Homo sapiens: one gene and its partners. The protein of the gene in region 1 interacts with the protein of each later gene in a biochemical or structural test. Each region holds a gene or a part of one and is shown in the gene's direction. Other genes may lie near its edges. The genes, in order: CRKL, ARHGAP32, INPP5D and SASH1.

What was found.
Region 2: the proteins of CRKL (region 1) and ARHGAP32 form a complex in vitro, tested with the Homo sapiens proteins (one study listed by BioGRID).
Region 3: the proteins of CRKL (region 1) and INPP5D form a complex in vitro, tested with the Homo sapiens proteins (one study listed by BioGRID).
Region 4: the proteins of CRKL (region 1) and SASH1 interact in a test that uses a peptide from one of them, tested with the Homo sapiens proteins (one study listed by BioGRID).

What each region holds. Positions count from the first base shown.
Region 1 is NC_000022.11:20,920,385-20,927,408, forward strand, and holds part of CRKL (crk-like protein), read left to right. Parts: intron 1-7,024. UniProt on the Homo sapiens protein: May mediate the transduction of intracellular signals.
Region 2 is NC_000011.10:128,965,308-128,972,331, reverse strand, and holds part of ARHGAP32 (rho GTPase-activating protein 32), read left to right. Parts: intron 1-1,172; coding exon 1,173-3,425; 3' UTR 3,426-7,024. UniProt on the Homo sapiens protein: GTPase-activating protein (GAP) promoting GTP hydrolysis on RHOA, CDC42 and RAC1 small GTPases. May be involved in the differentiation of neuronal cells during the formation of neurite extensions.
Region 3 is NC_000002.12:233,055,800-233,063,350, forward strand, and holds the start of INPP5D (phosphatidylinositol 3,4,5-trisphosphate 5-phosphatase 1), read left to right. Parts: upstream 1-4,542; 5' UTR 4,543-4,679; coding exon 4,680-4,813; intron 4,814-7,551. UniProt on the Homo sapiens protein: Phosphatidylinositol (PtdIns) phosphatase that specifically hydrolyzes the 5-phosphate of phosphatidylinositol-3,4,5-trisphosphate (PtdIns(3,4,5)P3) to produce PtdIns(3,4)P2, thereby negatively regulating the PI3K (phosphoinositide 3-kinase) pathways.
Region 4 is NC_000006.12:148,527,833-148,534,856, forward strand, and holds part of SASH1 (SAM and SH3 domain-containing protein 1), read left to right. Parts: intron 1-3,693; coding exon 3,694-3,829; intron 3,830-4,964; coding exon 4,965-5,134; intron 5,135-5,938; coding exon 5,939-6,148; intron 6,149-6,918; coding exon 6,919-7,024. UniProt on the Homo sapiens protein: Is a positive regulator of NF-kappa-B signaling downstream of TLR4 activation. It acts as a scaffold molecule to assemble a molecular complex that includes TRAF6, MAP3K7, CHUK and IKBKB, thereby facilitating NF-kappa-B signaling activation.

The sequences.
Region 1 (7,024 bases):
CCAGCTACTCGGGAGGCTGAGGCAGGAGAATCGCTCGAACCCGGGAGGCGGAGGTTGCAGTGAGCCGAGATCGCGCCACTGCACAGCCCGGGTGACAGAGTGAGACTCTGTCTCAAAAAAAAAAAAGGAAAAAGTTAATGACTTGAGTCTCCTTCTAGAGGAAGGAAAAGAAGTATGCCGCTTCTCTCTATCCACAGAATCGCCTCCAGATTTTCCGTACATGCATGCATCTTCTTAGAGAACAAGCATGTAATTCTGTCTTTGCCCTCTTTCGTCCTTCCTTTACTGCAGCTGTACTAGGCTGCTCACTTATTCCCTGGTAGCCATCCTTCCTTACTCATACCTTTGTACCTTTGCACCTTTGCTCCAGCTGTTGGCTCTTCACTGACTGCCTTAACTACACCTCACTCTCCATCTGTTGAAATCCTACCTGTTGTTCCAGTCCCCTCACAGATTATAGGGCCTTTCTCTGACCCTACCCCTCACGTTCAGCTTTGTTTCTCCTTCTCTGTGCCCTCTGCCTCAGGCCTGTTGCTTTAATTTAGTTTTTCATTTTCCTAGGTATCTCTGAAGGAGATCACCATGCTGGTTGAATTAGATCCTGACTGAGTTTACTTTGTTATACTGAATCTTCGAATTGCCACTCCCAAGCCTGGTTTTCATGGCTTAGGTTTAACATGTTATTAGCCTTTTATAGAAAGCTAGTGACTACTAGAGCCTGGGCCAAACGGAAAACTCAGTGTAATGCTTCTTCGCATCCCAAACAGGGTACATTTAGTGGCTTAACTTTGCAGGCATCAAAACTGAGCTTTTAAAGCCAGAGTTTCATGCCTCTTGGCTAATATTTTGGTTTATCTTGCATAGCTAAAATTTGTAACAATAATGTCCTACTCGAAATTTAAGGACTGGTGGCTTGCATTGTTATAGTCTTATCCTTTTCATTAGAATGCTTCATAATTTTTAATTTTATATTTTTATTCAAATGTTTATAAGAGAATTATAACCCAGTGTAACCCAGTGTAGGTACTGGGAAAGATGTGTGACAGACATACTTTCTTCCTGTGGAACTCCTACTGTAGTGGAGAAGACAGACTGAAAAGTAGAAAAATAAAGTACTAGTAAGATCAATATACAGGAGGGACCTACCTGGGGTGGCGTGGTCAGAGAAAGCATGAAGCTAAGACCTGAGGGTAAAGAAGAACCCAGCCTAGGCAAGGCTTGGCCTGAGAGGAGGAGAAGAGCCTTCCAAGTTTAGGGAAAAGCTTATGTAGATGTCCTGAGGTGAGAAAGTCCATTGTGTTGGGAGTGTGTTTCTTTTCTTTCTTTCTTTTTTCTTTTTTTTTTTCTTGAGACGGAGTCTTGCTCTGTCGCCCAGGCTGGAGTGTGCGATCTCGGCTCACTGCAAGCTCCGCCTCCTGGGTTCACACCATTCTCCTGCCTCAGCCTCCCGAGTAGCTGGGACTACAGGCGCCTGCAACCATGCCGGGCAAATTTTTTGTATTTTTAGTGGAGACGGGGTTTCACCATGTTAGCCAGGATAGTCTCGATCTCCTAACCTAGTGATCCGCCCGCCTCGGCCTCCCAAAGTGCTGGAATTACAAGTGTGAGCCACTGCGCCCGGCTTTTTTTTTTTTTTTTTTTTTTTGGTAGATGACGTCTCACTCTGTGGCCAGGCTAGAGTGCAGTGGCCCAATCTCGGCTCACTGCAACCTCTGCCTCCCAGGTTCAAGTGATTCTCCTACCTCAGCCTCCTGAGTAGCTGGGACTGCATGGGACTACAGGCACCCGCCACCATGTCCGGCTAATTTTTGTATTTTTAGTAGAGACAAGGTTTCACCATGTTGGCCAGGATGGTCCCTATATCTTGACCTCATGATCCACCTGCCTCAGCCTCCCAAAGTGCTGGGATTACAGATGTGAGCCACCCTCTCCGGCCTGGGAGTGTGTTTCTTAAAGGAGAAAGGGGGACATATAAAATGAGTTTGGAGATAAAGATCAGGGTCAGGAATTGGGTTTTTATTTAAAGTGCTGTGGGCTCCAAGGAAGGAATTTGAGGCAGAGGAGTGACCTGGGGCTGTTATTGTAATCCAGCTACAAAATGATGGTGACTAATAGTGACAGTGGAGCTGTGACTTGGAGATGCCTATTTTGGAGATAAAATTGATTTGCTGGTGGGTGGGGATGAAGGGAAAGGGAAGAAGGGATGATTTGGTCTATTTGTAACTTTGTTATCTTCTGTGTTTTTATCTTTAACTGCTTTTTGTATTTGTGGTATTCCTATGGTGGATTTTATTTTATTTATTTTTTTGAGACCAAGTCTCCCTCTGTCCCCCAGGCTGTAGTGAAGTGGCATAATCTGGGCTCACTGCCACCTCCGCCTCTGGGGTTTAAGATTCTCCTGCCTCAGCCTCCCTAGTAGCTGGGATTACAGGCATGCACTGCCACACCTGGCTAATTTTTGTATTTTTGGTAGAGACAGGGTTTCACCATGTTGGCCAGGCTGGTCTTGAACTCTTGACCTCAAGTGATCCACCTGCCTGGGCCTCCCAAAGTGCTGGGATTACAGGTGTGAGCCACTGCGCCTGGCCTAGCTCTAGTGTATTTTTATTTAATAAGGGCTGTTTCCAGTTTAACAACAGAATGCTTCAGAAGGTAGCTTGCTTTGTTTGACATTTTCCATTTCTAGCTTGTGTCGATAGATAAATTCAGGCTATGAAGAAAAATTAGAATAAATAAAATTTTACCATTAAAAACTAAAGGAAGTTGGCCCTTCAAGAAAATAATGTACTGTACTCAGCAGACTTTGAGCATTACATGTACCTGGTAATATGGAACCAACATTGAATCAGACAGCCCTATCATGCTTCTGAGGAGCTTACTGGTTACTAAAAAAAAAATTTTTTTTTTTTTGAGACGGAGTCTTGTTCTGTCGCCCAGGCTGGAGTGCAGTGGCGGGATCTTGGCTCACTGCAAGCTCCGCCTCCTGGGTTCACGCCATTCTCCTGCCTCAGCCTCTTGAGTTAGCTGGGACTACAGGTGCCCGCCACCATGCCCGGGTAACTTTTTGTATTTTTAGTAGAGACGGGGTTTCACCGTGTTAGCCAGGATGGTCTCGATCTCCTGACCTCGTGAACCGCCCGCCTGGGCCTCCCAAAGTGCTGGGATTACAGTTATGAGCCACCGCGCCTGGCATTTTTTTTTTTTTTTTTGAGACAGAGTCTTGCTCTGTTGCCAGGCTGGAGTGTGGTGGTGCAATCTTGGCTCACTGCAACCTCCACCTCCTAGGTTCAAGTGATTCTCCTGCCTCAGCCTCCCAAGTAGCTGGGACTACAGGCGCACGCGCTACCACACCTGGCTAATTTGTGTATTTTTAGTAGAGATGGGGTTTCACCATGTTGAGCAGGATGGTTTTCTGTCTCTTGACCTCAGGGGATCTGCTCGCCTCGGCCTCCCAAAGTGCTGGGATTACAGGCGTAAGTCACCGCGCCTGGCTACTAAAAAAAAAAAAAATGTAAAGGTTGGCTGTGCTCGGTGGCTCGTGCCTGTAATCCCAGCACTTCGGGAGGTTAAGGCAGGAGGATCGCTAGATCCCAGGAGTTTGAGACCAGCCCTGGCAAGATAGTGAGACCCCATTCCCACAAAAAATTAAAAAATTAGCTGAGCATGGTGTCATGCGCCTTTAAGTCCCAGCTACTTGGGAGGCTGAAGTGGAAAGATTGCTTGAGCATGGGAGGTCGAGGCTACAGTGAGCTATGATCATGCCACTGCACTTCAGCCTGGGCAACAGAGCCAGACCTTGTCTCAAAAAATGAATGAATGAATGAATGTAAGTTGTATATATTTAATATATTTAATCTCCATGCATGGTGAAACAGCTGTGGGAGAACTGAGAAAGGGTGCTTAGTCTAACCTGAGAGCCCAGAAGAGGAGCCTCACACACCTGTGAAGTAGAAGCCAATCCCTGAAGGGACAGGAGGAAACAAGAAGCATGGTTGTGCCTCCTCTTTACATCCCCTGTTCTAATTATTTAAGAACTCAAATCTAGACTTCCATAATTTGGAATGGGGAAAGGATTGCCAGTAATTTTAATCAGCATAGAATTCAACTCTGTGAATAAACCCCTTTGCGTTTCTCCTGACCAGTAGTTAAAATCATGTGAATTTGATTCAGAGAAAAATACAAGAACATGGCCAGGTGCAGTGGCTCACGCCTGTAATCCCAGCACTTTGGGAGGCCAAGGTGGGTGGATTGCCTGAGTGCAGGAGTTTGAGACCAGCCTGGGCAACACGGTGAAACCCTGTCTCTACTAAAATACAAAAAATTAGCTGGGCATGGCGGCGTGTGCCTAAGAGGCTAAAGGCAGGAGAATCACTTGAACCTGGGGGGTGGAAGTTAAAGTGAGTCGAGGTCGTGCAGCTGGACTCCATCCTGGGCGACAGAGTGAGACTCTCTCCAAAAAAACAAAAAACAAGAACACTGTCATGCTGAGAATGGAATCTTGTCCAATTAAGAGTTGTGTTCCCAGCCGGATGTGGTGGCTCACGCCTGTAATCCCAGCACTGTGGGAGGCTTAGGCGGGCGGATCATGAGGTCAGGAGATCAAGACCATCCTGGCCAACATAGTGAAACCCCGTCTCTACTAAAAATACAAAAACTAGCTGGGCGTGGTGGCATGCATCTGTAGTCCCAGCTACTCCGGAGGTTGAGACAGGAGAATCGCTTGAACCTGGGAGGCAGAGGTTGCACTGAGCCAAGATCACACCACTGCACTCCAGCCTGCCAACAGAGCGAGACTCCGTCTCAAAAAAAAAAAAAAAAAAAGAGTTGTGTTCCCATGGAAAGTACTAGTAGCCATTCGATTTGTGACTTTTAAAACTCAAATCCACAGAATTGTGACCTAAATTTTTCCTTTTGATCTGAATGATTAGACTAGATTTCTGAGGGTCTTTAAGATTAAAATATTTTAATTCTGGGCCGGGCGTGGTGGCTCACGACTGTAATCCCAGCACTTTGGGAGGTCTGGCAGGTCGGGAGTTCGAGACTGAACCTGGGAGGCAGAGATGACAGTGAGCCGAGATTGCGCCAGCGCCACTGCACTCCAGTCTGGTCAACAGAGCGAGACTTCGTCTCGGAAAACAAAAAACAAACAAACAAAAAACATTATTTTAATTCTTTCAGATAAGTAAAAGGGGGCACAGCCTATTAGTTGGGAGTTCAGATTAACTTGAGTTGAATCTGAGCTAAAATCATAACAAGTTGGGTGGGGCCACCAGGCACATAGCAACTCACCTGGAATGAACGTGACAAGAACAGTGGAAGAGGATGAGAAGAGGCTTTGAAGGTGCACACTCAACGGTATTCGAATTCTGTCACACCAGTTTTGTGACAGTATTAAACCAGAGTTAGGTAATTTGAATACCTGAGCTTTTGTGCTTTCAGAAACAAAAAAGGAGGGAAATAGGAAAGGGAAGTTCTTTGATATATAGAGGCCTACAATATACCAAAGCTCACTGCTAGACTCTTGGAATCTAATGGAAGTAAACCATGTTTTTGTTTTTGATTTTTGTCTTTGAGAAGCTTTGGTCTATTGAAAAAATTAGAATGCCATGACAGCTTAAAAGCAAAGGCAATCAACTGTACCTAAGAGGTGGGGAGAGGCTTGAAAGAGGAGATGCTCTTCAACTGATTCTTTAAGGATGAGAACAAGTATACGAGGTAGAAGAGGTGGTGGTAGAAGAGATGGTGGCAGTGCTTGCTGGTAAAGACACAGTTATAATTAATGTAGATGATGGGCAGGAACCTAGGAAGGAAAGATAAAGCCAACTTGTAAAGGGCCTCCTCAGCCTTGTAAATGAGCTTAACAATGGGAGCCATCTAAAGTTTTTAAAAAGAGAACTGTCAGATTTTAAAAGGAGAACTGATGAGTTTTACTTTTGAGAAACTGCTCTGGGTGGGGAAAGATCTGAAGGACTAATTCTCTGTTACTGGAGAGGGACCCTGAGAAGCTGAGCCAAGATCAAATGCCATAGGAATGTAAAGTGGCACATAGAAGGTGAGGGGAGAGGTATGATGACTTCAGAGAGGATTGAGTGGTGCCTTTGAGACAAGAGAAAGGGATTAGGGTGGGTGCGTGATTCTTTTCAACAGGAAGAATCTTTCTTTGAGGTACCTGCTGGAAGCCAGGTGGTATTTAGCAATCTGATGGGTTTGTTATTGAGAAGAGAGGTAAGGGCTGAATACATATAGATTTGGGAATCGCAGCTTAGATGGGATCACCCAGAATGAGGAGGCAGAACAGGAATAAGTAGAGAAAGAGAAGCTGCGGAAGGAGAGGCAGCCACAAGCATAGGAGGAGGAGCCATTAGTGATGGCCTGAAAGCCCAGGGACAGAAGGGAGGGGACCTGGGCATTAAATGCTGGTCAGTGATAAAGAATGGTGGTTACTGGCTGGACATGGTGGCTCACGCCTGTAATCCTAGCACCTTGGGAGGCGGAGGCAGGTGGATTGCCTGAGCTCATGCGTTCGAGACCAGCCTGGCCAACACAGTGAAACCCTGTCTCTACTAAAATATAAAAAATTAGCCAGGCATGGTGGCGTGCGCCTATAGTCCCAGCTACTCGGGAGGCTGAGGCAGGAGAATGGCTTGAACCTGGGAGGCAGAGATTGCAGTGAGCCAAGATCGCACCACTGCACTCCAGCTTGGGTGACAGAGCAAGACTCCGTCTCAAAAAAAAAAAAAAAAAAAAAAAAAGAATGGTGGTTAAAGCAGTTTCACTAGAGAAGTACTTAGCTCATCTTGGAATTGAATTTTTTTTTTTTTTTTTTGAGACAGTGTCGCTCTGTCGCCCAGGCTGAAGTGCAGTGGCATGATCTCGGTTCACTGCAGTCTCCACCTCCCGGGTTCAAGTGATTCTCCTGCCTCAGTCTCCTGAGTAGCTGCGATTACAGGCGCCCACCACCATGCCCGGCTAATTTTTGTATTTTTAGTAGAGATGGGGTTTCACCATATTGGACCAGGCTGGT
Region 2 (7,024 bases), on another chromosome or scaffold:
GTTTCCATGAGATAGTTCCCATTTGAGGTTGGAGTCTGCCATTACCTTGATGCTGGCTTTTCCCCAGGAAAGGAGTAGCTCCTAGATGACTATAGCTTAACTGTACCTGCTCCCTTTTCTTCCTAAAGTGTCTCGGTAGTTTATTCCAGTAACACAAAGAGATCAGGATCAAATGAGACAAAGTGGGCTTTACGGTTGTGGGTTGCTTTTTCTTATTTTTTTCCAACTCCATCACTGACTCATTGTGACTTTGGGCAAGTCATTTACCTACCCTCTGCCAATTATTCACAGTTACACAATGAAAATACTTCATTCTCAAAACATTCGTAAGACTGTCTGCCTTGCAGACTTTTTGGAAGTATAAGAGATTATAGTGCCTTGGGATTTTTTGTTACTTTCCTAGCATTCACCAGCAGTTTGTCCCATAGTCAGGTGCCTGTTTCAATGAGAGAATGTAGTATGCAGAATGCTAAGGTTTCTTCCTGAATTTCCTCATATTTTAAGAAAGTGCCACAGGTTGTTTTTCTTCTATATGGTCACCTTGAACTATTAATAGGACTTAAGATTTTAGACCTTAGTGGAGGATGCTGTGTTTACTGCTTCTCAAGGATAGCATGTTTTCAGTATGAGGATTATCTTTGGCCAGACTAAGGTGGAATCAAAGGTAGGAGAGAGGCAGTAGCTTCTGATTTGAATATTGCCTTTCCCTATGTTTGAAGCCCTAAAACTGCTAACTGTGTACAACTGTGAATTTCAAAAGTCTCCCCAGATGATAGAATTAACTCTTAATTTAACAAGATGTCCTTTGTGTTGAGACTGAGCTAGACTAATAGACCGGGTATGTATTTTTAAGCTCTACAGCATTACTTGACTAAACCTCTCTTTTGGTTTGTATATTAAAATTATGCCATAGGCAACCTCATCTCGCATTTAAAACCTCTCATAAATTAGAAAACTTTGAATGGTTCTCCAAAGATAATACTGGGTGTTGTACAAAATAGCAGCACAAGCCTTCTTTTCCTAGAAATGGGTACAGATTCATTGCAACCACATGGCTTGGGAAAGTTCAAGCTGCTACCCAACCAGCCTTAATTTGTGAGTTACAAATTTAATAGTACTTGATTCATAGAGGGAACAAAAAATAGACCCATAGTATTATCATCTTTCAATAGGTTCAAGGAGTAGTTCCAGTTCCAGAGAGGCCACCTGAACCTCGAGCCATGGATGACCCTGCGTCTGCCTTCATCAGTGACAGTGGTGCTGCTGCTGCTCAGTGTCCCATGGCTACAGCTGTCCAGCCAGGCCTGCCTGAGAAAGTGCGGGACGGTGCCCGGGTCCCGCTGCTGCACCTGCGCGCCGAGTCTGTCCCTGCGCATCCCTGTGGCTTTCCTGCACCACTGCCCCCCACCAGGATGATGGAGAGTAAGATGATTGCTGCCATACACTCCAGCAGTGCAGATGCCACCAGCAGTTCAAATTATCATTCCTTTGTCACTGCTTCATCCACCTCTGTGGACGATGCATTGCCTTTACCACTTCCTGTCCCACAACCTAAGCATGCTTCTCAGAAAACAGTTTACTCCTCCTTTGCTAGGCCCGATGTCACCACTGAACCCTTTGGTCCAGATAACTGTTTGCATTTCAATATGACTCCAAACTGCCAGTACCGTCCCCAGAGTGTACCTCCCCATCACAATAAATTGGAGCAGCACCAAGTGTATGGTGCCAGGTCAGAGCCACCAGCCTCCATGGGTCTTCGTTATAACACATATGTGGCCCCAGGAAGAAACGCATCTGGACACCACTCCAAGCCATGCAGCCGGGTCGAGTATGTGTCTTCTTTGAGCTCCTCTGTCAGGAATACCTGTTACCCCGAAGACATTCCACCGTACCCTACCATCCGGAGAGTGCAGTCTCTCCATGCTCCGCCGTCTTCCATGATTCGCTCTGTTCCCATTTCACGGACAGAAGTTCCCCCAGATGATGAGCCAGCCTACTGCCCAAGACCTCTGTACCAATATAAGCCATATCAGTCCTCCCAGGCCCGCTCAGATTATCATGTCACTCAGCTTCAGCCTTACTTTGAGAATGGCCGGGTCCACTACAGGTATAGCCCATATTCCAGTTCTTCTAGTTCCTATTACAGTCCAGATGGGGCCCTGTGTGATGTGGATGCCTATGGCACAGTCCAGTTGAGACCCCTTCACCGCCTTCCCAATCGAGACTTTGCTTTCTACAATCCTAGGCTGCAAGGAAAGAGCTTGTACAGTTATGCTGGTTTGGCTCCACGTCCCCGGGCCAACGTGACTGGCTATTTCTCTCCCAACGACCATAATGTAGTCAGCATGCCTCCGGCTGCTGATGTGAAGCACACCTACACCTCATGGGATCTTGAGGACATGGAAAAATACCGCATGCAGTCCATCCGGAGAGAGAGCCGTGCTCGGCAGAAGGTGAAAGGGCCTGTCATGTCCCAATATGATAACATGACCCCGGCGGTGCAGGACGACTTGGGTGGGATCTATGTCATCCATCTGCGTAGTAAATCAGATCCTGGGAAAACTGGACTTCTCTCAGTGGCAGAAGGAAAGGAGAGCCGCCATGCAGCCAAGGCCATCAGTCCCGAGGGAGAGGACCGCTTCTATAGGAGGCATCCCGAGGCAGAGATGGACAGAGCCCACCATCACGGAGGCCATGGTAGCACGCAGCCGGAGAAGCCATCCCTGCCTCAGAAGCAGAGCAGCCTGAGGAGCAGGAAGCTTCCTGACATGGGCTGCAGTCTTCCTGAGCACAGGGCACACCAAGAAGCAAGCCATAGGCAGTTCTGTGAGTCAAAGAATGGGCCCCCTTATCCCCAGGGAGCTGGCCAGTTAGATTATGGGTCCAAAGGGATTCCAGACACTTCTGAGCCAGTCAGCTACCACAACTCTGGAGTAAAATATGCTGCATCCGGGCAAGAATCTTTAAGACTGAACCACAAAGAGGTAAGGCTCTCCAAAGAGATGGAGCGACCCTGGGTTAGGCAGCCTTCTGCCCCAGAGAAACACTCCAGAGACTGCTACAAGGAGGAAGAACACCTCACTCAGTCAATCGTCCCACCCCCTAAACCAGAGAGGAGTCATAGCCTCAAACTCCATCATACCCAGAACGTGGAGAGGGACCCCAGTGTGCTGTACCAGTACCAACCACACGGCAAGCGCCAGAGCAGTGTGACTGTTGTGTCCCAGTATGATAACCTGGAAGATTACCACTCCCTGCCTCAGCACCAGCGAGGAGTCTTTGGAGGGGGCGGCATGGGGACGTATGTGCCCCCTGGCTTTCCCCATCCACAGAGCAGGACCTATGCTACAGCGTTGGGTCAAGGGGCCTTCCTGCCCGCAGAGTTGTCCTTGCAGCATCCTGAAACACAGATCCATGCAGAATGAGCCCTGCGAGCAATAGAGTTGAAGCAGCCTCTGCTGGACAGTGGACTGTTCTATTTTTTTCAATAACCAAAAAGATTAAACAAAAAATACTATAAAACCCCTGACCACATTTAAAAAATGATAATAAAAGTAAACAAATCAGCATCTTTTTCCCCTTCCCTGCTTCATTACCCCCTCTTCCATCTATAGACTTTGTCATTTTTGTCTTTAGAAAAGATCTGAAGGATGGTAAAGCCCCGTGCTGAAACCCAGTAGAGAAACCTGTCTCAGGACACACTTGCCATCTAGGGCTAGCTTGAAAGAGCCTGAGGACTGCCTTTAACTGAATTTGAATTCAGCATTGTCCTTTCTTCTTAGTATTTGCTGCATAATTGAGAGCAGTTCACATCGATTTCCTGGTAGGCGTCTGCATTCCCTGTTGTGTTCCTGCTTCTCCTTCAGTAGCTGCACAACTTGCGCAGATCGACACACTGTTGTCACTTCATTCTCCCCGTCTGAGAAGGATCTTGTGTTCAGTTAGAGTCGTGGAAAAATCCCTGATCCTTCAAGGTCAGTCAGACAGTTGGCAACATTATAATTAAAAATAAGAAATTAAGACTTTAAATTAAACATTTGGTAGAGTCATCATAAAACACCAGACCACTTAGACTCAGGCTGAACCATACTCTTTCTATTCTTATTTTTCATCCTTGTTCCTCACGGTTCAGTGAACAGGCTCATATCATGACAGAATGGACTTTTAAAAGTTAGTACTTAAGGAAACTTCTTTAGGTGGAAGAAAGTAAAGTTCTTATTGTCAGTGAACTTTATTAGCACCAGAAATCTCTATTGATGCTTTTAATGCATTGCCTGCCTTCAGGTTTTCTTCTTACCCCACCCCTCAATAAGATTTGGTGAATTGTAATTCTAGTAAAACATGTCATACCATTGGTTTTCCTAAATTATCAACTTTCTTTCATTAAAAAAAAAAAAAAAAAAAAAAGCCCAGCATGGTTTGACTGGATAGACACGCATAATTTATTATGAATATAAATTTCCATGTTTGTTTCTGTTCCTAAACCAGAGTACGAGGTCCCTGGGAATTTAAGTAGCTACGCATTATCTATTATTAGACTGCAAGTTCCTGCAATAACTGCTTAGTTCACAGCCCCGTTTCACCAGTGGAGTTCTGGGCAGTTATTGCTGTCCTAAGGCATTACTGTCGTTTGCTTACTCTATACTTGTGTGGTCACAGTCTTCTTGTAATTACCATCTACACCAGCATTTCAGGTATAGCTCTTTATAACTCTGGAGACATGTAAAACATGTTTAACACCCACGAGTTTTGAAAGTTGCATTCCTTATTAGAGTAGGAACTCTCTAGCCCAACTCCATTCTATGTTCTCAGCTCCCTCCACCCCCCAAAATACATCAGACTAGCAAGGCAGTCCTATGTTTACAAAACGAGTTTAGATTGTCATTTCATTCCATAACTCTTAATAATACTCAAGTTTTATACATTCACGTATTTTAAATGCTCGGTCTGTAGAAGACACTAGGAGAATTGCATTCCAATTACTGGATGGTTGCTGCTCTGGCTTTTTAGAACTTGAAATTAATTTTTATTTAGAGCAAAGGAGGAAATCTTTTAAGAGGCTAAAATCATGCTGCTATTATTGCTGTGAAATTGTATAAAGATTAGGATTCATGCCAGTTTTTATTTTAAAAAATAATGTGCATTTTAAGGGTTTATATTTAGAAAAAAATAAAATGTTTCAAGAACAACACATTGATATGTGGAAATATTCTATAAGGTTTTCTTTTGTTCCCTTAGAATTCATTGGAGGGATGCAGTAAAAACTGTAGTAGAAACCTTGAAACACCCATATGTGAAAAGGTCTGTGGAAATTGAGGCCTCTACATTAAAAGTGCAGAACCAACTGTTTTACAGTCAAAGTGCTAGGAAACCTGATAGGATACTTCCCTTTGGCACAAAAACACCCTGGGTGCTACATACAGGAGTATGACCTTTGGTGAATATGTGGCACTAATTTTTTTTACCTTAATCATATTCTTGTCAAGTAGGCAACCCATTGCCCCTTGGAGACCACACCAGCCCTGTAAGTTCTCACCAGCAGCATGGAGATTAGGAAGAGGGGCTGCTGTGACCAGGAGATACACACGGCTTTAAGTAACTGAGAGCCTAAAGAAAGTAACCCAGGGAGTCCGGTCCAGTTTTAATATTTGTGGATTTGTTGTCACACACATTGTTTAGTCCTGAAACTAAAACCTATTTTATAAATAGTAGGGTTAATTCCTCGAAACAATTTCTTTATTAATAAATGTCCTGTGGGTTTAGAAATATCAGGTAAATATTTGAATACAGAATGATGATTGCAATTACTGTTACAAGCGTGAAACACAAACTTCAGATCAAATCTAGAGTTGCTTCATTTAATGCATGCTAGCAACAGCCTTAACTTTGGATTCAGTTATTTGAAACACTTTTCCGGCATCTTTCCCTTTCTAATGTTGTGGGGTGGAAACCGGATGGCAAATCACTGTGAGCCGGATACCTCAGCACAGTCCACCTTGTGTGTGACTTCACAAATGGGGGACTTCACAAATGGGGTAACTGAATGTTATTACTTTCAAATTTTGACATGGAGCATTATGATCAAGGAAATGGAGCTGCCTTATACATTAAACCCGTGATTTAATCCTATTGACATTTTCATAGCCATGCCTCCAGATTTTATCTTTTTGGCAAAATTCTGATTCCACAGTTTGGTCTGATTGAAATAAATATTCCCTGGACGTCTGGCTAAAAATTTTGCTAACAATCCCAGAGGTGCCATTTTCTTATTAATAAATTTCATTGGAGCCTTATTTCTTACTATATTCAATTTCGTTTCAAACCTGCAAGTCCCTGGGATGGTCCCACGACTAGGGCCTGCACATTTCTTACAATGGCAAAGCATTTTTTAAAATTTAGGGTCAGGTTGAAAAATTCTAGGACTAATTCTGTAGAGAGGAGGGACTGTTAACTAACGTGAGTGGGGACGGAGGAGTAGGTTACCACATTTGGAGCAGTAATAGATGCAAACGATGTAAATTTGAAATTTGCCCCTTTAGTTAAAGAAGGAGCCTGCAAAGTCCATTTCTCTGTTTTCAGCCCTGTCAGTCACCCATTTAGGATGTTGGCAAAGTACTGCTTGAGCAGAATGTGTAAGAAAGTAATAATGAAAGCAAAAGTATGTCAGACAGTTACTTCTTCCACATGGTTAGAGGCATGTGATTTTCAGCACTGTGTGTTACAGAAATGTCAGGAATGGTGTATTATAACGTGTGCAAGATAATGTCAGTGTGCACAGAGGGTCTTTTTTCCTTATCTGATTAGTACTGTTAATGTTCAAAGAATAAAAATGGTTTTACAGTTTAGATTCTGAGATAGCAAAACCTGATTTTTCAACCATGACCTGCATGAGAGAAGCATCCTAGGAAGTCTTAGATCATACTTTTGAGTTTTTAATTTTAATTTATATAGTGTTTTTTTATGTCTTAATATTTTTGTGAACTGGTGTAAATTGTTAATGCATATAAGCTTGTGTATTTTTGTA
Region 3 (7,551 bases), on another chromosome or scaffold:
ATCAATAGATAGATAGGTAATAGTTAGACAGATGGCTAGACAGATGGATGGCCAGATAGATAGATAGATGGCTAGATAGATAGTGACTAGATAGATGGATAGGTAGATGGCTAGATAGATAGATGGATGGATGGTTAGCTAGATAGCTAGATAAATGGCTGGATAGATAGATGGATGGCTAGATACATAGATGACTAGATAGATAGTGGCTAGATGGATAGATAGATGGATGGCTAGATAGATGGCTAGATAGATAAATAGATGGATAGATAGATAGATGGCTAGATAGGTGGATAGATAGGTGGATGGCTAGAGAGATACACAGATGTATGGATAGATAGATAGATAGATAGATAGATAGATAGATAGATAGATAGATAGATATGGAATTGGCTCATAGGATGGTCAAGGCTGGCAAGTGCAAAGTCTGTAGAGTGGGCTGGCAGGCTGGAGACCCCGGGAAGAGTTGATGCTGCGGCTCGAGTCCATAGGCAATCTACTGGCAAATTTACTCTTTGGAGGAAGTCAGTCTTTTTCTATTAAGACCTTCAGCTTATTGGATGAGGCCTACACACAGGAATTGCTTTACTCAAAGTCTACTGATTTAAATGTTCATGTCATCTAAAAAATACTTTCAGAGAGACATCCAGAATAATGTTGACCAAATATCTGGGTCCTGAGGCCCAGCCAAGTTGACATAAAATTAACCATCACTGCTCCCTTTGCTTTTAGCACTCAGTGAGTGAACACTTTCAGCCCCTGCACCCCAAGCCATGAGTGATATCTATCTATCCACCCAGGCTGGGGGGAGTGGGAGCCCTGGGGCATAGTAAAGGGCTTCGATGAACACAGGAGGGGAAGGGAAGTACAGAGACAAATGCTTAGATATATTGTATATCTGTTAACATTGTATAGTAAATATATATTATATATATATAATGTGTGTGTATATATATACACACTATATATATGATGTAATGTGTGTGTGTATGTGTGTATATATATATATATATATACACACACACACACACATATATATATACAGTATATATTGACCTCTGCCTCCCCTCTCCTGGCTCAGTCCCTTCTCAGACCCTGAAATTCTTTCTGTTTCTTGTCCACGGTGGAAGGACCCCTGGACAAGAAGCTTGGTGTCTCCATTGTCCCTCTCTCCCAGCCTGCCCTGACCCTGTCCTGAGACTCAAACCTTCCTGTGACCCGCCCTCACTTAAGGTTGCCAAAGCAGAATTGCTCCAATGCCTTGGCCCTGCCATGTCAGCCCTCCTCTTCAACACTGAGGCCTGTCTGTTCTTCCCGGAGCTTCTAGAGTTGGCTGAGTGCCCATGACCAGGTGCCTGCCAGACCACCCTGATGCTTCTCACTGCCCAGCTTTCCCAGAAATTGTTCAAGTCCCCTGATGGGGCCTGGGGCTTGCCAGGGCTGGCAGTGCCTTTGGGCAGGTGCCCCAGTCTGGACCCAGGATCACATGAGTGAGTCTGACCCCACTTCTTCCCCTCAGCTGCTTTCCAAGCCTCTGCCCCATGGGTGAGGTTGACCAGATGCTCCAAGGAATGCATAGACTCACACTATGCAATCGCTCTGGGGCCCTATGGCTGGGTGTGACTCCTGGGCACAGCCTGGGGAGCAGGTTTCTCCTTTGAGTGGCCCCGAGCATTGAGGACAGCAAGGATAGTGGCAGGTGGTCTAGGCCCTCATCACCCCTGCCAGCAGCAGCTGGCAGTCCCTTATCCCTTCTGGAGGCTCCTGTCCACTATCAGGCAGCTGCCTCCTCCAACGTCTTTCGAGGACATTGCTCCACAGCACCGATACACCCACGGGCTCTTCCCATCAGCATCATCTCCCACCTCCCATCCATGTGGTGATGCTGAGCTCTCCACATTGATCCTGCCAAGCCAGATGCAGGCAGACATCCCTGGAGAGTGAGACTGCTCTTGTATGTGGAGGGCCAGGGTGCAATCATCATCAAATGGGATCTCAAGGTAGGAATGCAGTGATTATGGCCTAACACATTCAAGAGAATATGGCTGGAAGATGTGTGGTTCTACCTTTATGCTATAAAATTTGGAACAGTAATTTTTTTTTTTTTTTACTGTGTCGCTCTATCACCCAGGCTGGAGTGCAGTGGCACGATCTCGACTCACTGCAATCTTCGCCTCCTGGGTTCAAGTGATTATCCTGCTCAGCCTCCAAAGTAGCTGTAGCTGCGATTATAGGCACGTACCACACCCACCTGATTTTTTTTTTTTTTTTTTTTAGTAGAGACAGGGTTTCACCATGTTGGCCAGGCTGGTCTCAAACTCCTGACCTCAGGTGATCCACTCCCCTCAGCCTCCCAAAGTGCTGGGATTACAGGTGTTAGCCACTGTGCCTGGCCACTCTCTAGCCATTATTTGAAGTCTTCATTGATAAATCACTATCCCTCACATGAGTTTGTGAATTTTGTAATACGTTAAAATTATTTATATTGACTGGAGACCTACAAAAAAAAAAAATCCACCCACCAAAAGGGCAGCTCTGATCTAGATACTGGGATTTCCTGAATGTGGAGGGCAGAAGGGTGGGGGACAAGCCAGCTGACCATGCTGGATAGATCAGGCAATTGGGTGGAAAAGGAAGCAAAGTTGGGATGGGCCTTAAAAATGAGGGAAGAGTGCCCGTGTGGCGTGTGTGCCAGGGGATCTCACTCTGTGGAATGGCAAGGACCGTGGGAATAGAGGTGTGAGAGGTGGGGGGCTGGGGGTTTGGGGGAAGCTCTCTAAGTAGGGCAGTCTTGGCATGGTAGGGGTCTCTAGAGATGAGTGGGTGGAGGTGTAAAGGGACCAGTATTGCAAATGGATCCTCCTGGTGGCGTGGTCCAGGACTTCATGGATGTTGGTGGAGGCCAGCAGGGAAGTGAGAAGGGTGTGAAGGTACACAATGGGAGCATAGGAGATGACCCCATAAGGAGGGGGTGGACAGGTGCTGAGTGGAGGCGTGGGTGGGGAATGAGAGGCCTCCACACTGGGCTGCTGCAGAGGTGGCGTGCTGCGGAAGGGCCGGAGCATGGAGGCCAGTTCCCATCACCACTCTATCCCCACGCCTGGCTCCCAGCCTGGCCAGAGGTCCTTGACTGGGAGTGCTTTGTCTGCCCTACAGACTCGCCTGCCATGTGTGTTGCTCAGCGGGGAGGTGCTGGGGGCCCTGTTCTGGGACAACCATCAGTGTGACACATGTTGAGCCCCTGGGCACATGTGAGCTCTTTTACGAGCTACGTCCTTCAAGTTAGACAAGAAGAAACCAAGGCCGAGAGAGAGAAGAAACTTGACCAGGTTCCCACAGCTTGAATGTGGTGGCGCTGCCTGGCTGGTGCCCCTTCCTGGAGGGAGTCTGTTGTCATGTCCTGGAGGCCAAGGCCTGGATGTGGGATGGTGGGGGCACTCTTTGTGCAGCGGGTCAACACGTGCCCCTTCGGCCTTGGTGGGCCGGACCCAAGGACGGAAGGTGCCCAGGTCTGGGGGCTGAGGGATGGGTGTCCACCGCAGAGCCCTCAGAAATGACTGGTCCTGGATGGCGGTCCCTGGAGAGGCAGCTCCTCTTTGAGTGGTGGGCATATGTGGCCATGCCCAGTCTTGGAGGCGGTGCAGTCCGACCGGCCACCCCGACTGCTGAGACGCAGGACTCAGCACCCAGTGTTGTCCTTGGCCAGGCGGCCAGCCTGCCCTGTGGGGCTTTGGGGTTCTCCTCTCCGAGCTTGTTTCCCCAGCATCCTGGAGAAGCCCAGGGAAAAACCCAGCCTATGTTCCCGCTGTAAACGGCCCACATCCCCTCCAAGCTCCCTTTGTGTGTCTCCAAGCTGGACTGCAGGGATCAGAGCTGTGCTGCCCGTGCAGCACCCACCCGCCCCTGGGAATGAGGGTAATGGGGTCACAGAGCCATCACTTGGACCTTGGCGCCCTCGGCTGGTGGCAGCCAAGGTCTCCCAGCACCCAGGCCGCTGGGAGTCTCTAAAGGGGAGGGGTGGGGCTCGACTGTCCCCTCCCCCTCAAGTTTGCTCTGTCCTGGGCAGGCCGTAGTCCCAGTTGAGAAGCTGTGCCCCCTTGGGTGTTTTGGAGGTTCAGGGTGGGTGCTGAAAAGCCCTGAGGGAGAGCAGAAGGCTCGGGGGCCTGTCTAGGGCATGGCATCCCACGTGGGTGTCAGCACGGCCGCAGAAGAACCACTTCTCTGGCCCACCCATGCCTGCTAGGCCATGCTTCTTCAGAAGTGGCCACAACTCTCCTGACGTCTCCAGAGCCGGTCATTCCACCCAGGGGGACTTCAGCTGCCACTGGACACTTCAATTGTACGCTGCGACCAGTTGCCAGGAAGGAGAGGGCTGGCAAGAGAGCCGCGGCAGCCGTGGCAGGGTGTAGGGGACGGTGGACGGCCAGGGCCCCCCCCTCTCTCTCTTTCTCTCTCTCTCTCTTGCTTGGTTTCTGTAATGAGGAAGTTCTCCGCAGCTCAGTTTCCTTTCCCTCACTGAGCGCCTGAAACAGGAAGTCAGTCAGTTAAGCTGGTGGCAGCAGCCGAGGCCACCAAGAGGCAACGGGCGGCAGGTTGCAGTGGAGGGGCCTCCGCTCCCCTCGGTGGTGTGTGGGTCCTGGGGGTGCCTGCCGGCCCGGCCGAGGAGGCCCACGCCCACCATGGTCCCCTGCTGGAACCATGGCAACATCACCCGCTCCAAGGCGGAGGAGCTGCTTTCCAGGACAGGCAAGGACGGGAGCTTCCTCGTGCGTGCCAGCGAGTCCATCTCCCGGGCATACGCGCTCTGCGTGCTGTGAGTACAACCTGCTCCCTCCCCGGGCACAGATATGACAGAGGGGCTTAGAGGGGGCCCAGCTTTGAGATGGGTTGTTCTTATGTCACAGGACAGAGTGATCTGACATGCACACTTCCCCGCCACCCTGTCATGGACCTTGTCCTTGGAGTTCAGAGAGCTGGTCTCATGGCAGGTTTTGCAGCCTTGGAGCTGTCAGAACCACTCTGAGGCCTGATGTTACACCCCAGCTTCCCATGAGCTGTATGGACCTTGTGGCTTCCTTGGAGTCTGGGGACCGAGAGAAGGGAGTTTGGGCTTTTGGAGCCAGGAGGAAGCTCAGGGCTCTGTGGAGGTGGGTGTGTTAGAGATCAGCTCAAAGATGCCCAGCTCAGAAACCCTGAGAAGAGCAAAGGTGGCAAGGGGGACCCTTCCTGGAGCACCCAGGCTTCGGGCCCCTGGAGGAAGCTGTTGTTTGGCGAGCCAAGAATATGGGGTGAGTTTAATCAAGAAAGGACTTTCCATTCAGTCAGAAGCTGCTTTCAGGGGCCTGAGAGCAGAGGAAGTCACCATTACCACCAGCGAGCAGCCTCTTCTCTCTCCTGAGCACTTGGCTGTGACCGCTGCCCACCCCCCACCCCCTCAATTTGGGTCTCTGTCACCATCAACTCCTCCCACTGCCCGGTTGGGGATGTTACTGAATGTACCAGCTGTGCTAACAATGGAGGAACCAGCCACTTGCTGAAGGTTCCTTTCTAAAACCCCCTTCCTGTCCAGCGTCTGAAGGAGGCCCTTGCCCTGCAGCTCTCGGTCTAATCATAGGGGGGCCTTGCCCTGCAGCTCTTGGTCTAATCATTTTGCCGGGGCCTCAGGCAGTGCCGGAGTGTAGTCAGGGAAATGTGTGTCCACCTGAACATCTCAAGTAGCATCCCTGGGCTGGCAGAAATGTTCCCCCGAGCAGCCAGGGCCTTGTGCTTCTCCAGGCAGGAGGGGAATTGGGTGATGAACCCAGACCTGTTTTGAATACTGACTCACAGCTGGGACCTGTCGTGCTAAGCATTTGTTAGCCCATTTCATCCTCACCACAACCTAAAGTGAAGGTCCTGTTAAAAGCCCCACTTTGCAGATGAGAAATCTGAGGCCCTGGCAGGTTAAGTGAGTGACAACAGTCAAAGCCACGGCCATCTGCCCCCAGAGGCTGCAGCTGAGACCAGCAGCCTGTGGCCCAACCTCTCCTGCTCCCAGTCCAGCGGGGCAGGCATGTAGCCTTGCAGGGCTGGAGAAAGAAGCAAGGGGAGCCACAGTGTTTACAGGGTCAGCTGGGGCACTGGAAACCAAGCCAGGCTCGCAGCTGGTCGCTGGCCTGTGCTGACAGTCTGCAGCCCCACCTCCAAAGACTGGTTTCCTGTGTCCCCTCTCTCATGCCTCAGGGGAAGGAACGCAGGCCCAGGCTGCCTGGACTTCCCCAGTGGGGACCTGCTGCTGCCGGGGCCTTAGAAGGAGCAGGAAGATTCTCTTAGGCCTCTCACAAGCCCAGTCTGACTCCACCTGGCCCATGTGGGTTACTTGGATTTCTCTCCTGGCCCAGTGGGATCTTGTCCTGGCTGTTTGGTGTTGGCTGAGCCGAGGGCTTCCAGGGCCCCATCTCATTAACCTTCAACACAGCCCTTTGACCAGGGCTTGCTTTGTGGTTGCTCAGGTTACAGACATGGGGCGTGGGTCTCTCTGACTCCGAGCCGTGAGCATCTTAACGTCTAGGATTAGCCTGAGCCAGAGTCAGAGCTGGAGAGGCCTTGGAGAAGCTCTGGTGCAACAGCCCTGGCTTTTCAGGAGGTAGACAGAGGGCAGAGAGCCTGAGGCCTTTGTCCACCATGCTGGCTGGGGTCAAAACTGCTGGGATCCAGGCCAGTTCTCGTATTCCTTCCTCTACCTCTTCTCTCTGAACCCTTGTCTGCACTGAGTTCTCTCAGAGTCATGATGGGTGTGCAGTGTCTGCTCCTTAGAGAGGGACCTGTGGTGCCTACAGATGTCCACTATCCTCTCAGCCGAAGCCTCGTCAGCCTCCTATCCTGAGGCTGCTGGGCTGCAAACACCAGGAGTCCCACCCCTTGGCCAGACAAACCCTGGGCTCAGTGTTTCCCTTTCTCCTCTGCTCAGGGTGGGAAGCTTCCCTTCCTGCAGGGTCAGGCTCCACTGTAGGCCGTGGGTTGCTATGGACCTGCAGACTTTCCATACATCTGCAGGCTTCATATGGCTGCCACCCTGGATTTTGCCAATTACGGAGATTTTAAAACTAAAAACTAATTAAATGAATGATAACAAACTGTCATCTTCCAACACCTCATTTCTTGAAAGAAAGCAGCCTTTGACACCAAAAGAGGCAGGAAGGGCATTAAAAAAAAAAAAGCCAGTCATTTAAAGCAAAGAGATTGAACTTCTTGAAAAACAAACCCTACCACCCTTAGTTTTCTGTGTTCCCTGCAGAGTCGCCGTGGCCTGACGGAGACGGCAGAGGCAGACAGTCCCAGGCTGAGGGGTGTGCAGGGCAGCCGGGTTTTCTGCGGCTGCAGAAGTAGCAGGCTTTGCCCCCCTAGCCCTGGAAGCCTGGAGCCACCCTGCTCTAGAAGTGACTGCAGAAGGAAGCCACACACTCACCCTCCTGCCCTAGCAAAGTCCATGGGAAAAGTATACCTGCCCCATGGCCCCTCAGATCACCCAGGTGCCCTGACCTCATCCTGCCTGGGCCCCAGCAGCACTCC
Region 4 (7,024 bases), on another chromosome or scaffold:
GTGTACAGACAAGAGAGACAGACATGTAAAGAAATGGTTATTCTTCAGTGCACTAAGCGTTGTAAATTTGAATACAAAGGAAGGATTTTATTTTCTAAACTATGCCTTGCTACAAAATGGATGTTACCTGAATCAAACCTAAAGCTTTTTTTTTTTGGGGGGGGGGGTGGCAGTAGACTTGTCGATCATAGCATAAGTTGTTCTAGAAGCACATAGCCAGTCTAAGAAATAAACTCAAAGTTCTTCCTGGGTACCAGGCTTTGGTAATAATGTTTCAGAGAGGGGTGTTTTCCCTCATTTGCCTTATCTGTAGCCATGAAGGAAGGTATCATAGAATTGATTTTTCCCCCCTGGATCTATAATTTCATTGCTAGAGAAATGACTGTTTCTGTCTAAATTGCATGGGTGGAGGGAGTAAAGATAGTTGGAGAGCTGGGCCTCAAGGTAATTATGACCATTCAATTTTCAAGACACTCTCCTCCAGCACCTGTATAGCACTCATTTTGTAGCCTGTTGAAGTTCCTGTGTATGAGCTGGTTGTCTGCTTGAAATATGTAGGTAATGCACTTTATCTACCAAATAAAAACAGCAGGAAAAGCAGACATTTTTGCTCAGCTGCTGCTCTCTGGTGGGCACAGTGAGCTAAAACCAAGCATCGCCCCTATGCGAATGACCGAACGTCACCAGCCTGCCACCCACCTCACTTGATTCAAACAAAGCCTGCACAGCAGCTTCAGTTGATTACAGTGGTTCTCACGGGGAAGGGGTGAGAGGCTATCATTTTGCTCCCCCATGGACTCCAGGGCAATGTCTTTCAATGGTCAGACTGGGTTGAGGTGAAGTGGAGTGGATATTGCTGGCATCTAGGGCAGCAGTGCCCAATCTTTTTGCACCAGGGACTGGTTTCGTGGAAGGCAATTTTTCCACGGAGCTGGTGTAGGTGGTGGTTTCAGGATGATTCACATGCATTACATTTATTGTTCACTTCATTTCTATTGTTATTACATTGTAATATATAATGAAATAATTATACAACTCACCATAATGTAGAATCAGTGGGAGCCCTGAGCTTGTTTTCCTGCAACTAGATGATCCCATCTGGGGATGATGGGAGACAGTGACAGATCATCAGGCATTAGATTCTCATAAACAGCGTGCAACCTAGATGCCTCGTGTGCACAATTCACAATAGGATTCGTGCTCCTACGAGAATCTAATACCGCCGCTGATCTGACAGGAGGTGGAGCTCAGACAGTAATGCGGGTAATGGAGAGTGGCTGTGAAAACAGATGAAGCTTGGCCTGCTCACCCGCCACTCACCTCCTGCTGTACGGCCCACTTCTTAACAGGCCACAGACGGGTTCTGGTCCGTGGCCCGGGAGTTGGAGAATGCTGATCTAGAGGATAGAGGCCAGGGACGCTGCCAAACATCTTAGCATGCACAGGACGGTCTGCACAGCAAAGAGCTGTCCATCAAAATGATCAGTGCTCAGGCTGAGAAACCGTGGCTTGTTAGACCTGCAGGAGATAGATGTCTGGACTGCCTTCAGCATGTCTTATCCATGATTTTTTTTCTTTATTCTTTTCATTCTCTTGTCCTTGTGGGTGACGGAGTGATAGTGATTCTATATTTCTTCCCAGCAATGAAGCAGTCAGCATGCTAGTGAGAGCATGCTACTAATTGAAAGCATTTTATTAAGTTTGCTTTTCCCCAAGATAGATTGAAACAGCCACTAAAACTCTTAAGCTTTACGTTCACAGAGGTTTTCTGCTTTATGAATCAGAAGCATAGAATTTTAATGTCATTTTGGCATTTTTCAATAATTTTACTACCATATAGCAATCTTATGTGCTTAGTTCTGTTTTTTTAAAGCAGCCATTTCACATAAGTTAAGGAATAAAAGAAACAACTGATCATTATAAATTTTCTGTAAAGCAAAAATAATGGAAGGTTTTATGTGGTTGTTTTTTTTTTGTTTTTGTTTTTGTTTTGAGACGGAGTGTCACTCTGTCACCCAGGCTGGAGTGCAATGGTGTGGCCTCGGCTTACTGCAACCTCTGCCTCCTGGGTTCAAGCGATTCTCCCACCTCAGCCTCTTGAGTAGCTGGGACTACAGGCACGTGCCACCATACCCGGCTAATTATTGTATTTTTAGTAGAGATGGGGTTTCACTACGTTGGCCAGGCTGGTCTCGAACTCCTGACCTCGTGAGCCACCCACCTCAGCCTCCCAGAGTGCTGGGATTACAGGCATGAGCCACTGCGCCCACCTTGTGTGTTTTTTTAAAAAAACTTTTTAGTAAATATACCAACCATTATGGTAGGGATATTTGTTTTCTCCGTTGCTGCTATATGCCCAATACCTGGATTAGTGCCTGTTATTGTAGGTAATTCATAAACATGTGATGAATAAATTAATAATTTTTTAAAGCATTTGAAAATATATCAGAGACCCACATTTACTATTGCTGTTTTTCAAACTGCGTGCTTTTTTCAGAAGCATTACAGAAGATTTTAATGGGAAAAAAGTTACTTATTTTATGACGCAGAAAGGAGGAATGAATTTTTTTTTTTTAAGGAATTCATACTTTGGAGCTTCAGTAACTTCCTAATAATGTCAGCTCTAGTTTTCTTTGTTGTTTTTGAGGTCGCTTGCTCACTTTCCTCACATTGAAAGCACTAATGTGTGTTGGATCAGAAGCTGCTGTTGCTGATGTCCTCAGATGTTTGCAGGACCTGCGGAGCTGTGTTAAGGCCCTTCTGATGACTCGGCAGCATGCAAATAGCAGGTTTCATTTTAGCTGGTTTTGAGCCCGTGTGGCTGCGGCCATATGTAATATGCCAGAGACTTTTCTATTTTGGCAAGTAAACAATTCTCACTGCAAACTTTCTGAAGTGTGATATCGTCTATTGATGTAGCACCACGAATCAAATAAGCATGCTATACTCAAATGTGCAAATGAGGAGCCGCTGAGAGGATAATACTTAGCTACTCAAAATGCAGGAAGTACTGCTGAGTCACTCCCATCAGGATTCTGGTGTGAAAGAGATTTCCCAGCTTTTTACTGACAACACTTTAGAAAAGTGAAAGAAGCTAAAACTTTAGAGTAACATATGGAAATTTTATGGTAGACTGGAAAATAGTATGTTTGCTGTATATGTGGGTTTTAAATTCATGTTTCCTTATCCAATGCCAATAATTTGTACAAATAGAAATATAAGAATCTAGCCAATTTTTTTTTTCCAGGAATACACTTTTTTAAAAGTGCATGTTTCCTATCCAAGTAGATTAAATATCCTCTGACTACACTTCCAGGTATTCTAGTAATCATGGATTGTACTTGATCTACATTTGAAGTCCAGCCTTGCTACTGGGCTTTTGCGTATGCTGAGTCTCTAAACCTTTAAGTATTTTGTCTGTGTGGTAGACAGATTTTTTTTTTCTTGGAGATTCCAAGAATATCTATTCGAGAATGAGAAATAGTATTTGAGTGCTTAATAAATAGTGACATTGGCCACGACTTTAAAAGTAAGCGAGGATGTAAGTTTAAGAGGAGGAGAATATTGGTTATAGAATCAAATATAGGTATAGATTGATTTGATTGATTTCGTTGAAGGCCAAGTCGCTGAGAATTACAAAACAACACCTGTCCACTCTGATGAACTTCTTCATTTTGTTGAAACCCATGGCAGGACTCGGGCCTTGATGGAATGCCTGGCTCCCCTCCGCCTTCACAGCCCGACCCCGAACACTTGGACAAGCCCAAGCTCAAGGCCGGGGGTTCTGTAGAAAGTCTTCGCAGTTCTCTCAGTGGGCAGAGCTCCATGAGTAAGTCGAGTTTGTCATTGTAGATTATTTTCTTTGGAGTTAATATCTGACATATACTGAGCACTAGGTTCAGGCAATTTCAAGGTGAATAAGACCAAGTCCTGCCCTTCAGGTGCTATTAGAGAATCAGACCAATAAACTCTCTGGACTCAGAGTCGTGTTTGTTTATTAGTAGACATGCAGCAGCAGCAGCCCAAAACAGGAGGTGATGAATTTTGATCGGAGACAATAGGGAAAGCATCTCAGAGGAAGGATCTAGAGAGCAGGGGGAATAAGCCAGGGAGACAAGCACATGAAGATGACCAGCAAAATAAAGGGAGTGGGGAAGGGAGGGGAATTTTATATGTGACTGATAAATTCGGGCCAATGGTAGTTGGAGTTGGCTGAATGGTATGAAGGAAAAGATCAACTTTATTTTATTTTTATTTTTATTTTTGAGATGGAGTCTCACTGTCTCCCAGGCTGGAGTGCAGTGTTGTGATCTCAGCTCACTGCAACCTTCACCTCCCTGGCTCAAGGGATCCTCCTGCCTCAGCCTTCCGCATAGCTGTACTACAGGGTCATGCCACCACACCCGGCTAATTTTGTTGTAGAGACGGGGTTTTGCCATGTAGCCCAGGCTGGTGGAACTCCTGGACTCAAGCGATCTGCCCACCTCGGCCTCCTAAAGTGCTGGGATTATAGGCGTGAGCCACCGTGCCCCGAGATCAAGTTTAAACCTACCACTTTAAGCTCTTTCTTACCCTTTTGGGCAAATGACATGACTGCTCTGAATTTGTTTCCTCATCTGTAAAATGGTTAGAGAGAGTGTGCATTACCACTGAGAGGTCACGAATGTTAAGAGCAGAGTCTGGTGCCTGGCCCTGCAGTGTCCTCCACGCGGGATCCTCCGTGCCACATGGATTCCCAGGTCATGAGGGTAACTTGCTGTGAGTCCCCTGTCCACTGAGGAGCTGAGGGATAGCACTCGGAGAATTCATAACTGGGCCCTGCCCTGGTCCTGACAGAGGGTTGTGGCTCAAGGCTTCCTTTCTCTGGGCCTTCATTTCCTAATCTGCCATACCTTCAATACCTTTCTGCTTTGCTGGGTGGGAAATCTGGATCTACCCGTGTTCTTCCTATGTTTCCTGTACAGGCGGTCAAACAGTGAGCACCACTGATTCCTCAACCAGCAACCGGGAAAGCGTCAAGTCGGAAGATGGGGATGACGAAGAGCCGCCTTACCGAGGCCCGTTCTGCGGGCGTGCCAGGGTGCACACCGACTTCACCCCCAGTCCCTATGACACAGACTCACTCAAGCTCAAGGTATCTCTCTCCCTGGCCTCAGAGCAGCTAACTGGGCTCTTCCATTTCTCTAGGAGGCTTTCTTTCCTCCTCACTGTTGAATGCTGGGCTACTATGGTACAGACTGGACAGTATCTTGGCTACCTCGATCACTGGTCTCCTCTGTAGTGAAAAACAGAACAAGAACCAGCCAGCCCTCGAGGCAGAGGGAGGGTCTCGTGTTAATCCCTGGGTTAGCATCACTTCACCCCTCTGACCTCAGCTTCCCTCTAGAATTCCTGTTGCACACCCTCCCTCTCCCCACCTGGCTCCTGCTCCACACACCTGGTTTCTGTGTTTTCTCCATCTGAAGAAAGATTTCTGCCTTCTGTGTGCTCAGAGGTACCTTTATGGGACAGATGGGGTTCCACAAAGTGTGTGCAGCCATGACAGGGCCGGGATTGCCACTGGTTAGGACAGGTGGGAAGTGCCTCCTCTAAGAAGTGGGAGCCCTCTGAGGAGGGAAGGCGTTCAGAGTGCCGGGCGGGCAGCCTGGCTGAGAGCACCAGGGGTACCCCAGGCACCCCTGGTTCTGCAGGGCAGGAGGGTGGAGGGGCTGTGACCGGGGGCCTGCGTGGAATTCCGTACAGTCAGAGACACCTGTCTGGCCTCTGCGGAGCTCACAGTCACATCCTATGCAGGTCACTCAGAGGGGTGACTTGTGGGACCCCGATTCTGGCCTTTGTGGCATCTTCACTTCTGCATGACCTGTGTATCTGACAGATTCTTGATTTGTACGTTCATGGAATGTACCTAATGGAAAGATCTTTGCTCCCTGGGCCACAGAAAGGAGATATCATCGATATAATCAGCAAGCCACCCATGGGGACCTGGATGGGCCTGCTGAACAACAAAGTCGGCACGTTCAAGTTCATCTACGTGGACGTGCTCAGTGAAGACGAGGAGAAACCCAAACGCCCCACCAGGAGGCGTCGGAAAGGACGACCACCCCAGCCCAAGTCTGTGGAGGATCTCCTGGATCGGATTAACCTAAAAGTCAGTCGCTTCTGATTCTTGTCACACGCTACTACCTCACTGCCTTTTTCTCTCCTACACTAAGCAAGTGAGGGCATTTTTAGGGTAGGGTTGGGGCTGATCTGTGTGGTCCAATAAGGGCAGCTCGTTACTATGATGAGCATTCATTATTCTACAGAAAGAGTTAGTTAGTTACCAGTTTTCCAACACTGCCCTTGACCTCAGCTGTGGGTGATAGCGTAAGCCCCGGGTCAAACCTTGCTGCTGGAAGAGCTGTAGGCAGAAACTCCTGGCACCTTGATCGCAGCTAGCTCCACAGGGGCCACAAGGAAACTCTGCGCCCACCTCTCTCCCACCATCACTCCAGGCATCTACTAGCATGAGTCTGCAATGAGAGATTATGTTTCCTCTTTGCAAAACTCTTGATCCTGAGGACTTAAAAGCTGGATTTTAATAGCTCTGTAAGTGGAGGAGGAGTCTCCTCTGTTGTGGGCTCTGTGGAGGTAAAGGAATTAGCTCTTATCAAGAGTACAATTATAGTGCAAGCCAGCAGAATCCATCACAGCCTGCAATGTACATCTTCCTAACCCATGATTAATAAAACACCCTGCTTGCCTACTAAGCCAGAGGGCTGGGATGTACAGGATCCATTGCAAATGATACTTACTAATCTTTTGATTAGCCTGAAGGTGACTATGGGAACAGTGTGTGGGTTGCAGGCTAGTTGTTGGCGGTGTTATCATGTGTCTGGGCTGGCTGACACCCTTCTGTCTTCCTTCTCCCTCTCACAGGAGCACATGCCCACTTTCCTGTTCAATGGATATGAAGATTTGGACACCTTTAAGCTGCTGGAGGAGGAAGACTTGGATGAGTTAAATATCAGGGACCCGGAACACA